Regions from separate parts of the Homo sapiens genome. Here regions 1, 2 and 4 are each linked to region 3. Evidence: fine-mapped expression QTL. A gene starts in region 3. Each other region holds a variant in brackets. All regions are shown on one strand. Distances are between the middles of the regions.

Region 1 (2,684 bases), 36 kb before region 3:
GTGAACTCCAGAGCTGGAAGTCAGTCACACGAGGGCACCTGCAACCAAGGGCAGCAATGGCTGAGGTACAGCGTGCCAAGTGCACCCGTGGGCACGTAGCCTAGCGCCCCTAAGACCTGAAAAGTAGAAATGTGTCCCCAAGAAAGGGCCATCTGAGAAGGAAAATCTTACAAACCATCAGGAATGTAAGACTATGTATGTCCCATCACAGAGAACTGCGGGAGACAAGTTTCACTCAAAATAAATTATCAAAGAAAAAACCTTGAAGATAAATGATCATATTCACGTTAATAATCTTGTTTTTTAAGCAGATTACTATATATTCAGATAGAAGAGATATAAAAATTTTAAAAGTCTGGAAAACTAGCCGGGCACTGGGATTATGCCTGTAATCCCAGCACTTTGGGAGGCTGAGGTGGGCAGATCACCTGAGGTCAGGAGTTAGAGACTAGCCTGGCCAACATGGTGAAACCCCATCTCTACTAAAAATACAAAAATTAGCCAGGGGTGGTGGCACATTCCTGTAGTCCCAGCTACTCAGGAGGCTGAAGTGGGAGGATTGCTTGAGCCCAGGAGGTGGAAGCTGCAGTGAGCCGAAGATTGCGCCACTGTACTCCACCCTGGGGACAGAGCCAGATCCTGTTTCCAAAAAAAAAAAAAAAAAAATTATATACATATAAAAGATTACATATCATTGATTGCTAATCATTCGGGTTTAAGATTATAGAGTAAACAGAGAAGCAGCTGTCCTAGAGTCATTGTCTTCTCCTTTAGATCCCCGAGTCTGAAATACTGACATACCGTGAGCCACAGATGATGTTTCCCCCAAGTCAGTGTCTTGGGAGCTTTGGAAGTTGGCCTCCCCAGAGCCTGCCTGATCATCTTCACTGTCACCTTGCTCATCCTCGGAGGATGAGGACTTTTCATCTGAGGAACTGGCAAAGATGGCCCTGAATAAGTCCATGGATGGGCGGCTCCCTTCTCCTTCAGCCTGTGCGTCCACATCTTTGTTGACGGTCTGTATTGACAGTGAAATAAGAGTCAGGGATACAGAGGCAAGGGTAAAAGGGAGGAGACATTCTAGAATACACTCCCAGACACACATATTTATGTTTATGCTCATGTACATGGGTATCCATAGCCACACACCACCCAACTAAACAGTGATCACTCACATAGCTT[C/T]TATTTTTGTGGTGTTTCCGAGTCAACAACTGTACAATGTGCTGATGAGGTCAAAGAAGCAAAACCGGGCCAGGCGTGGTGGCTCACCCCTGTAATTCCAGCACTTTGGGAGGCCTAGGCGGGTGGATCACAAGGTCAGGAGATCGAGACCATCCTGGCCAAAATGGTGAAACCCTGTCTCTACTAAAAGTACAAAAATTAGCTGGGCATGGTGGTGGGCGTCTGTAATCCCAGCTACTAGGATCCCCAAAAATGCAGTAGAGCACTGTGCCTCTGTTCTATTTCCAAACTCAGATTCAGGCAACTTAACAAACCCCAAACAAAATAAACTCAAAAGAATTCACACCCAGATACATCATAATCAAACCGCTAAAATCCAAAGACCAAGTAAAAATCTTGAAAGCAGCTAGGAGAAAAATCACATCATTATGTACAGAGGAATAATAATTTGTTTTGGGGTTTTTTGAGCCAGGGTCTCACTCTGTCACCCAGGCTGGAAAGCAATGGTGCGATCATAGCACACTGCAGTGTTGACCTCCTGGGCTCAAGTGATCCTCCAACCGTAGCCCCTTGAGTAGCTGGGACCACAGGTGCATGCCACCACACCCAACTAGTTTTTTAATTTTTTGTAAAAGATGGGGTCTCACGATGTTGCCCAGGGTAGTCTCAAACTCCTAGCCTCAAACAAGCCCCCTGCCTCAGCCTCCCAAAGTGCTGGGATTATAGATGTGAGCCAACACACCCAGCCTGAGGACAATTTGAATGGTTGAAGATTTCTCATCAGAAATCACGAAACCCCGGAGGAAGTAGCAGTTTAATTTAAAAAAAAATTGGCCATGCGCAGTGGCTCACGCCTGTAATCCCAGCACTTTGGGAGGCCGAGGCGGGTGGATCACGAGGTCAGGAGATCGAGACCATCCTGGCTAACACAGTAAAACCCCGTCTCTACTAAAAATACAAAAAATTAGCCAGGCGTGGTGGCGGGCGCCTGTAGTCCCAGCTACTCGGGAGGCTGAGGCAGGAGAATGGCGTGAACCTGGGAGGTGGAGCTTGCAGTGAGCTGAGATCGCGCCACTGCCCTCCAGCCTGGGTGACAGAGCGAGACTCCGTCTCAAAAAACAAACAAACAAAACAAAACAAAAATTATCAACCCAGAATTCTATATCCAGCAAAAACATCCTTCAGGAATGAAGACAAAATATAAGACATTCTCAGATAATGGCAATTTAAGAGAATCACTTGTTGGAACTGGTCTAAAAGAAATGCTAAAGGAAGTTCCTCAGACAGAAATGATAGGTGAGGGGAACGTGGAACTTCAAGGATGAAGAAAGAGCAACAGAAATAGAAAATATCTGATTAAACAGAGTAGGCTATTGTCTCTGCATCGGTTCTTTTAAAATATGTTTAATGACTAAAAGCAAAAATGATCACCACTGGTTTGATGGCATTTTCATTGTGTGTACATGTAATATGTAAGACAGCATAGAGGGAGGAGAGTAAAA
Region 2 (2,684 bases), 48 kb before region 3:
AAAGAAAACAGAAAAGAGAGAAATGGAAAGTTAGCTAAAGTGAAAAACCAAACAGCTCCGTGGAGGCTGAGAATGCCAGGCCTCCCCATATCACAGCAGCATGTCTGCACCTACAAAATGCACTCACAATAACCCACAATGAAGTACTGCCTAATCTGTGCTTTTTTTTTTTTTTCCCCCGAGATGGAGTCTCACTTTTGTCGCCCAGGCTGGAGCGCAGTGGTGCGATCTCAGCTCACTGCAACCTCCGCCTCCCAGGTTTAAGCAAGTCTCCTGCCTCAGCCTCCAGAGTAGCTGGGATTACAGGCACATGCCACCATACCCAGCTAATTTTTGTATTTTTAGTACAGATGGGGTTTCACCATGTTGGCCAGGCTTGTTTCGAACTCCTGACTGTGATCTGCCCGCCTCGGCCTCCCAAAGTGCTGGGATTACAGGCATGAGCCACCGTACCCGGCCAATCTGTGTTCTTAAAATGCTTCTTCTATTACCCTGAAAACACACAGAGACTCACTCACCCACACCTCGTATTAAGACCACTTATAAAAGCAACTTTTTTCCCTAGTCTTATTTAGCCTTGAGAATACAAGCAATTTTTAATCTCAGTTTCACTCACCTACCGCATCCGTTGCATGACCCTTGGGAAGGAACTAAAATACATTCACTCCAGGGCCCAAAGCATCCAAGTTGTCTTTTTTTTTTTTTTAATTTTTTTATAGAGACAGGGTCTCCCTATATTACCCGAGCTGGTCTTGAACTCCTGGGCTCAAGCGATCCTCCCATCTTGACCTCCCAAGGTATTGGGATTACAGGCATGAGCCACCATGCCCAGCCCCCAAGTTGTCAGTCTTAAATCTGAATTTCTTTTCTTTTTTTTTTTTTGAGACAGAGTCTCTGTCACCCAGGCTGGAGTACAGTGGCGCGATCTCGGTTCACTGCAACCTCCACCTCCCAGGTTCAAGCGATTCTCCTGCCTCCACCTCCTGAGTAGCTGGGACTACAGGCACGTGCCACCACGCCTGGCTAGTTTTTTTAGTAGAGATGGGGTTTGGGGTTTCATTGTGTTAACCAGGATAGTCTCGATTTCCTGACCTCATGATCCGCCTGCCTCGGCCTCCCAGAGTGCTG[G/C]GATTACAGACGTGAGATACCGCACCTGGCCTAAATCTGAATTTCATACATATAGGAATGTTCGTGGCAGTTCTATTTGAAACAGAGCTGGGTCACACTGGCTGAAAATCCCTGCTCCACAGACTCAAAGTAAAAAACCCAGTATCCACACAACAGAAGAGATAAACATACCGTGGTGTGCTCACAAGAAGGAATCTTCCACAGCAATGACTACAAGCCCCTCACTGCTGCCTACCATCATCTGAAGGAATCTCAGAAGCCAGACACTCAAAGAATTCACACAACACCCTTCTTCCCAATAAAGATAAAACTGGCAAGAGCAGGCCTGCGCAGCGGCTCACGCCTGAGGCTGAGGCAGGAGGATCACTTGAGGCCAGGAGTTCGAGACCAGTTTGGGCAACATAGGAGATCCCATCTCTACAAAAAAGATTTTTTTAGGCCGGGTGTGGTGGCTCACGCCTGTAATCCCGGCACTTTGGGAGGCCAAGGCAGGCGGATCACCAGGTCAGGAGATTGAGACCATCCTGGCTAACACGGTGAAACCCCGTCTCTACTAAATATACAAAAAATTAGCTGGACGTGGTGGCGGGTACCTGTAGTCCCAGCTACTCAGGAGGCTGAGGCAGGAGAATGGCGTGAACCCAGGAGGTGGAGCTTGCAGTGAGCCAAGATCGCGCCACTGCACTCCAGCTTGGGTGACAGAGCAAGACTCTGTCTCAAAAAAAATGATTTTTTAAAAAAATTAGCTGGGTGTGGTGGTGCACACTTACAGTCCCAGCTACTCTGAAGGCTGAGGTGGGAGGATCCCTTGAGCCGGAGAGGCAGAGTTTACAGTGAGCTGTGATCAGGCCACTGCACTCCAGCCTGGGTCACAGAGCGAGACTCTGTCTCAAAAAATAAAATAAAATTCATACCCTATAAATATATGCTATATAAAATTATATTACTTATATTTAAAATGTGCACAAAAATCTGTATATAGGCCAGGCATGGTGGTTCACACCTGTAATCCTGGCACTCAGAGGCCAAGGTGGGTGTATCACCTGAGGTCAGGAGTTTGAGACCAGCCTGGCCAACATGACGAAACACTGTCTCTACTAAAAAAATACAAAATACAAAAATTAGCTGGGTGTGGGGGCGGGTGCCTGTAATCCCAGTTGCTTGGGAGGCTGAGGTAGGAGAACTGCTTGAACCCGGGAGGCAGAGGTTGCACTGAGCCAAGATCGCACCACTGCACTCCAGCCTGGGTGACAGAACGAGACTCGTCTAAAAAAGAAACAAACAATGTGTATGTGCATCCATGTACGTGAGTGTGTATGTGTGTGTGTGTGGTTGCACAAAAAAGGTCTTAAAGGTTACATATGAAACTGATGGCAGAAGTTACTGTGGAGAAAGTAGAGGTTTGGAGAACTAGTCAGGGCTCCTTTAAGCATTGGCTGTAAGGTCTGAATTTTCTTTTCTTTTTTTTTTTTTTTTTATTGAGACAAGAGTCTCGCTCTGTCGCCCAGGCTGGAGGGCAGTGGCACAATCTCGGCTCACTGCAAGCTCCGCCTCCC
Region 3 (2,684 bases):
TGTGGTCAGGGTGAAAAAAGGGAGGGGACCCCCACCAACAGGAGGTCTGCAAATAAATTGTGGCCCAATGATTCCACCATTCTTCCTCTGCCTTCCCTACAGGGCTAGCACAGCCAACAGCCCTTACTGGACACTCAATACATAACTTGCTGAACAAGTCAAGTCGTTAAGTGGAACAGACCAGAAACACAGGAGAGAACCTTGATTCATCTTGCCCCTCACCCCCACATTCCACCAGCAAGTATGGTCAGCTCTGCTTTCAAAATATATCTCCACCCAGACCACTACACACCACCACCACTGCTGTCCCATCCATGCCACCATCATCTCCTGACCTCTTTTTGCTAATCTCCCTGCTTCACTCTTACCCATCCCCAACCAGTGTATTCTCAACATCAAAGATAGAATAACATTAAAAATTGGCCGAGCACAGTGGCTCAAGCCTGTAATCCCTGCACTTTGGGAGGCAGAAGCGAGAGGATCACTTGAAGTCAGGAGTTCAAGACCAGCCTGGGAAACAGAGCAAAACCCTGTCTCTAAAAATCATATATATATCCCTCCCTGTGTAATTTCCCATGACCCTAACCCTAACCCTAATCCTGCACTTAGTACAAGATCCAAACTCTTTACCCTACCAAGTAAGATCCAGCCCCTGTCAGCCCCTCTGACATTCTTTTCTACCTGTCTCCCCCGCTGTCATCTGCTGCAACCATACCCGTCCTGCCTGCCCCTCAATTTCCTAAACTGGCTCCCACTTCAGGGCCTTTGCCACTTTATGTTCCTTCTGCCTGAAATGCTTTCCCTCCAGATTTGCTCATGGTTGTTTTCTTCCTCGGTTTCAAGTCTGAGCTCAAACGTCCTCTCTCGGGGAAGACACTGCCTGAGCACCCCCCGCTCTCACACTAGCTATTCCGTCATTTTCTTGTTTCTATCTCGCCGCCCCCTTGTTCGGCCACGCTTGTGTCTCCCGTCCCTGTAAACCTCTCTCTGTCGCTGCAGAAGGTGAGCACCCCGAGAGCGCGGCTAACGCCTCCCTCGTCGCCGTGTTCCCAGCGCTGGGAACGATCTAACAATGGTCCAGCACCGACTTGTGCTTTTGTGGCCCGAATCCTGGGCCCTTGGCCTGTTTTCCACAGGCTCCGCCGGCCCACGCGGCCCGCACCTTCTTCCAGAGGCTCCAGCCCGGTCCCATAGCTGACCAGATCTTCTTCGCTGTCACTGTCCCGCGCCGCCATCCTGCTCTTCCGGGCCCCGCCCCCTCGCTACGGCGGCCTTGGCAGGCCAAACGCCTTTCCTCTTTCTCCTCCGCGAACCCCGGTGATGCTGGAAGGCTGGGTCCGCGGGCGGGGGAAGGTGTCCTAGCGGCCCGAGCCTGCGCTCCGGATTCTCAGGCCCATCCTGTGGTAGGCCGTCCCAGGCAGGAGTTGCCTCGGAGGATTTGGCAGCCACGACATCCCATCCTAGCCCCGCGATGTGCGGGTGAGGAGGAGACTCCTGGCATAAGCTGGAAGCCACCCAACTGTTCCCTGCGAGGCGACACCGATGCCTGCCCAGCCCCCTACCCCCGTCCCTCGCGCCAGCCCCCTGCCTTGGCAGCAGTCACTGCCCAGCCCCGTCCACTCCCACCGCCCACCCAGCCACCTCCAGGGAAATGGCTGAGCTCCCAGATTTCATGCTCGCCCCGTGGGGCTTCGCTTTATTTTTATTATTATTATTTTTTACTTTTATTTTGGGTTCAGGGGTACATGTGCAAGTTTGTTATATAGGTAAATTGCATGTCGCAAGGGATTTGGGTTACAGATTATTTCCTCCCCAGGTAATAAGCATAGTACCCAATAGGTAGTTTTTCCGATCCTCACCCTCCTCGTACCTTCCACCCTCAAGTAGGTCCACCCTCAAGTAGGCCCTGGTGTTATTCCCTTTTTTTTTTTTTTTTTTTTTGAGACAGAGTCTCGCTCTGTCGCCCAGGCTGGAGTGCAGTGGCCGCGATCTCAGCTCACTGCAACCTCCGCCTCCCAGATTCAAGTGATTCTCCTGCCTCAGCCTCCTGATAGCTGGGATTATAAGCGTCCACCCCACCACGCCCTGCTAAATTTTTGTTTGTTTGGTTGGTTGGTTGTTGTGGTGGTTTTTTTTTTTTTTTTCTTGAGACAGAGTTTCACTCTTGTTGCCCAGGCTGGAGTGCAATGGCACGATCTCGGCTCACCTCAACCTCCGCCTCCCGGGTTCAAGCGATTCTCCTGCCTCAGCCTCCCTAGTAGGTGGGATTACAGGCATGCACCACTATGTCTGGCTAATTTTGTAATTTTTTTTTTAGTAGAGACGGGGTTTGTCCATGTTGGTCAGGCTGGTCTCGAACTCCCCACCTCAGGCGATCCATCCACCTTGGCCTCCCAAAGTGCTGGGATTACAGATGTGAGCCACCGCACCCGGCCATTTTTTTTTTTTTTTTTTTTTTTTTTTGTATTTTTAGTAGAGACTGGGTTTCACCATGTTGGCCAGGCTGGTCTTGAACTCCTGACCTCAAGTGATCCACCCGCCTCGGCCTCCCAAAATGCTGGTATTACAGGCGTGAGCCACTGCGCCTGGCACCTGTCATTCCCTTCTTTATGTCCATGTGTGCTCAATGTTTAGCTCCCACTTATACGTGAGAACATGCAGTATTTGGTTTTCTGTTCCTGCAT
Region 4 (2,658 bases), 100 kb after region 3:
GCGATTCTCCTACCTCAGCCTCCCAAATAGCTGGGACTACAAGGTGCCCTCCAGCATGCCTGGCTGATTTTTGTATTTTTAGTTGAGGTGAGGTTTCACCATGTTGGCCAGGCGGGTTTCGAAATCCTGACCTCAAATGATCCACCCACCTCAGCCTCCCAAAGTGCTGGGATTACAGGCATGAGCCACCACAACCGTCCCACTATTTTACTTTTTAAAATGACATTCCTACTGATTGATTTTTATCTTGCTATAAGTTCGATGACACCGTGAATCTAATAAGGTTCACTGTTGACACAGTACAAGTTACATAGCTAAAATACATAGCATTGAAGACTAATTTTAAGGATTGACAAGAGTTTATTTTCTATTGTGCAATATCTTAAAGGAAGCAACCACCTTTGGGAAAGTGTATCTGCTGCTCCTAGGGCCATGCTTGTATACATATTTAAATAAACATATTCATTTACCCGAGTTAATATTTCTTTTTACTTTTATTTCATTTTCATTCCCTCCTCTTTCAAATTGTTTCTCCCCAATGCACACAGTTTCTAATGTTCTGATTTTTTTAGTTACTAACATTTCACAAAGCAGAACTTAAAAAGCTGTCAAGTTATCTTAGTATTTTCTAAGACAGATGGTATCTTTGTGCTTATTTTTTGTTTTTGTCTTTTTTTCAAGACAGGGTCTCGCTTTGTCACCCAGGCAGGAGGACAGTGGCGCAATTGTGGCTCATGGCAGCCTCAACCTTCCGGGCTCAAGCAATCCTCCCACCTCACCCTCCTGAGTAGCTGGGACTACAGGCATGAGCCACCATGCCTGGCTAATTTTTTTGATTTTTTTGTAGAGATGGGGTCTTGCCATGTTGCCCAGGCTGATCTCGAAATCCTGGACTCAAGCAATCCTCCCACCTCAGCCTCCCAAAGTGCTGGGACTACAGGTGTGAGCCACTGTGCCTGGCCTGTGTCTATTTTTTGAATGGGCAATTTGTACCTTTTGATCCCCAGCCCCTGCTTCCCTCACTAGATGCAGCTGCTGCCATCATTTTCTTGTATCCTTCCATTGTTGGGCCTTTCATATACAAACACAGCCTGTTCTGCCTCATGCATGTTGAGTTTTCAACTTTAAATTTTTTTTTTTTTTTTTTGAGATGGAGTCTCACTCTGTCATCCAGGCTGGAGTGCAGTGGTGCAATCTCGGCCCATTGCAACCTCCACCTCCTGGGTTCAAGCGATTCTCGTGCCTCAGTCTCCTGAGTAGTTGGGATTACAGGTGTGTGCCACCACACCCAGCTAATTTTTGTATTTTTAGTAGAGACAGGGCTTCACCATGTCGGCCAGGATGGTCTGGATCTCCTGACCTTGTGATTCACCCCCCTTGGCCTCCCAAAGTGCTGGGATTACAGGTGTGAGCCACTATGCCCGGCCGTTGAGTTTTCAACTTTAAGTGGGAACTTCAGACTTCATACTTTCTGTGTGCAGAAGACATATGCAGTGATTATAAACAAACTGTACATCTGCCAAAAAAAAAGGCCGGGGGGAGGGAGGAACAAAGGAAAGGA[G/T]GAAGGAACTGTTGCGCAGTTATTTATTTACATTGGAAACAGCCCTCGCAGTACGGGTATATGAAGGCCAGACCTGATGAACAGCAGGTGAAACTCTGGGAACCCAGGGCTTAGGATACACAGTGCTTCCTTGTACATTTGTTTCCTTCAGATGGTCACATCCACCACTGAAGCTTTTTAGAAGGCACTTTCCATGACAGATGCAGGTCAAGGTCGCACATTAAAATCGGCCCTAATGCTTTTTGCTGAGTGTGAGTCCCTGACTCTCTTGCGAAGATCCCACCAGCCCTTTTCGTCTTAGCAGAATGAAGGCAGTGCCCTCTGCGGCCCACTAACTTCACAAGCTGAACTCAGACGCTAAGGCAGGACGACCCACGGGCTCCATTCAAGCCTCGCCTCATCTTTCACTGGTTGCTGCTGGAGAAAATCCTTTTTCTTTTTTTTTTTTTTTTGTTGTTTTCTTTGAGACGGAGTCTCGCTCTGGTGCCCAGGCTGGAGTGCAGTGGCACGATCTCAGCTCACTGCAACCTCCGCCTCCCGGGTTCAAGTGATTCTCATGCCTCGGCCTCCCAAGTAGCTGGGATTACAGGCACCTGTCACCATGCCTGGCTAATTGTTCCTATTTTTAGGGGTTTCTCCATGTTGGCCAGGCTGGTCTTGAACTCCTGACCTCAGATGATCCGCTGTCTTCGGCCTCCCAAAGTGCTGAGATTAGAGGCGTGAGCCAGTGCACCCGGCCCATTCTCTTGGTTTTTAAAGCTGAAAACAAGATCCTGGTGTTTGTGGTCTCAGGAGAAGATGCCGTGGCCCTGAGGCCAGCCCTCACCTGGGCTGCGTGAAGAAGGCATGGATCTGCTGTGCCACTGCTTGTCCGACCACCTGCTCCAGTTCCCCAATGGAAGCATTACTCAGTTGCTGGATGCTTGGAAACTTCTGGAGGAGAAGGGGAGCTTTAACTTTTCCAACTCCTGGGATCTGCTGCACGGTTCGAAGGAGCGAAGGCTCAGACAGCAGCAGGGCCCGTTTCTTCCCGAGAAGAGGGTTCTTACTGGGCTCTTTGGTTTGCTCTTGAACCTGAACCACAATGAAAGCAACAG

What was found.
Region 1: its variant is fine-mapped to the expression of GPATCH1 in whole blood (TOPMed, PIP above 0.99).
Region 2: its variant is fine-mapped to the expression of GPATCH1 in whole blood (TOPMed, PIP above 0.99).
Region 4: its variant is fine-mapped to the expression of GPATCH1 in whole blood (TOPMed, PIP above 0.99). The same link has a PIP of 0.9 or more in neutrophils.

Annotation. Positions count from the first base shown.
Region 1 is chr19:33,116,159-33,118,842 of GRCh38, reverse strand. It overlaps GPATCH1 (G-patch domain containing 1), which reads right to left. Exons shown (of 20, transcript NM_018025.3): 16 at 802-1,018. Among named protein-coding and RNA genes, the nearest start is that of WDR88, 15 kb to the left of the region's middle. RefSeq lists an enhancer at 224-393. The variant C/T (reference allele first, on the strand shown) is at 1,183.
Region 2 is chr19:33,127,441-33,130,124 of GRCh38, reverse strand. All of the region lies in intron 19 of GPATCH1 (G-patch domain containing 1), which reads right to left. Among named protein-coding and RNA genes, the nearest start is that of WDR88, 3.3 kb to the left of the region's middle. RefSeq lists a silencer at 932-1,076 and an enhancer at 2,643-2,684. The variant G/C (reference allele first, on the strand shown) is at 1,129.
Region 3 is chr19:33,079,745-33,082,428 of GRCh38, reverse strand. It overlaps GPATCH1 (G-patch domain containing 1), which reads right to left and starts at 1,248. Exons shown (of 20, transcript NM_018025.3): 1 at 1,163-1,248. The coding sequence starts at 1,235. RefSeq lists an enhancer at 1,024-1,353.
Region 4 is chr19:32,976,408-32,979,065 of GRCh38, reverse strand. It overlaps FAAP24 (FA core complex associated protein 24), which reads right to left. Exons shown (of 5, transcript NM_152266.5): 5 at 837-2,635. The coding sequence ends at 2,384. RHPN2 (rhophilin Rho GTPase binding protein 2) reads left to right here. Exons shown (of 15, transcript NM_033103.5): 15 at 1-474. Among named protein-coding and RNA genes, the nearest start is that of FAAP24, 5.5 kb to the right of the region's middle. The variant G/T (reference allele first, on the strand shown) is at 1,562.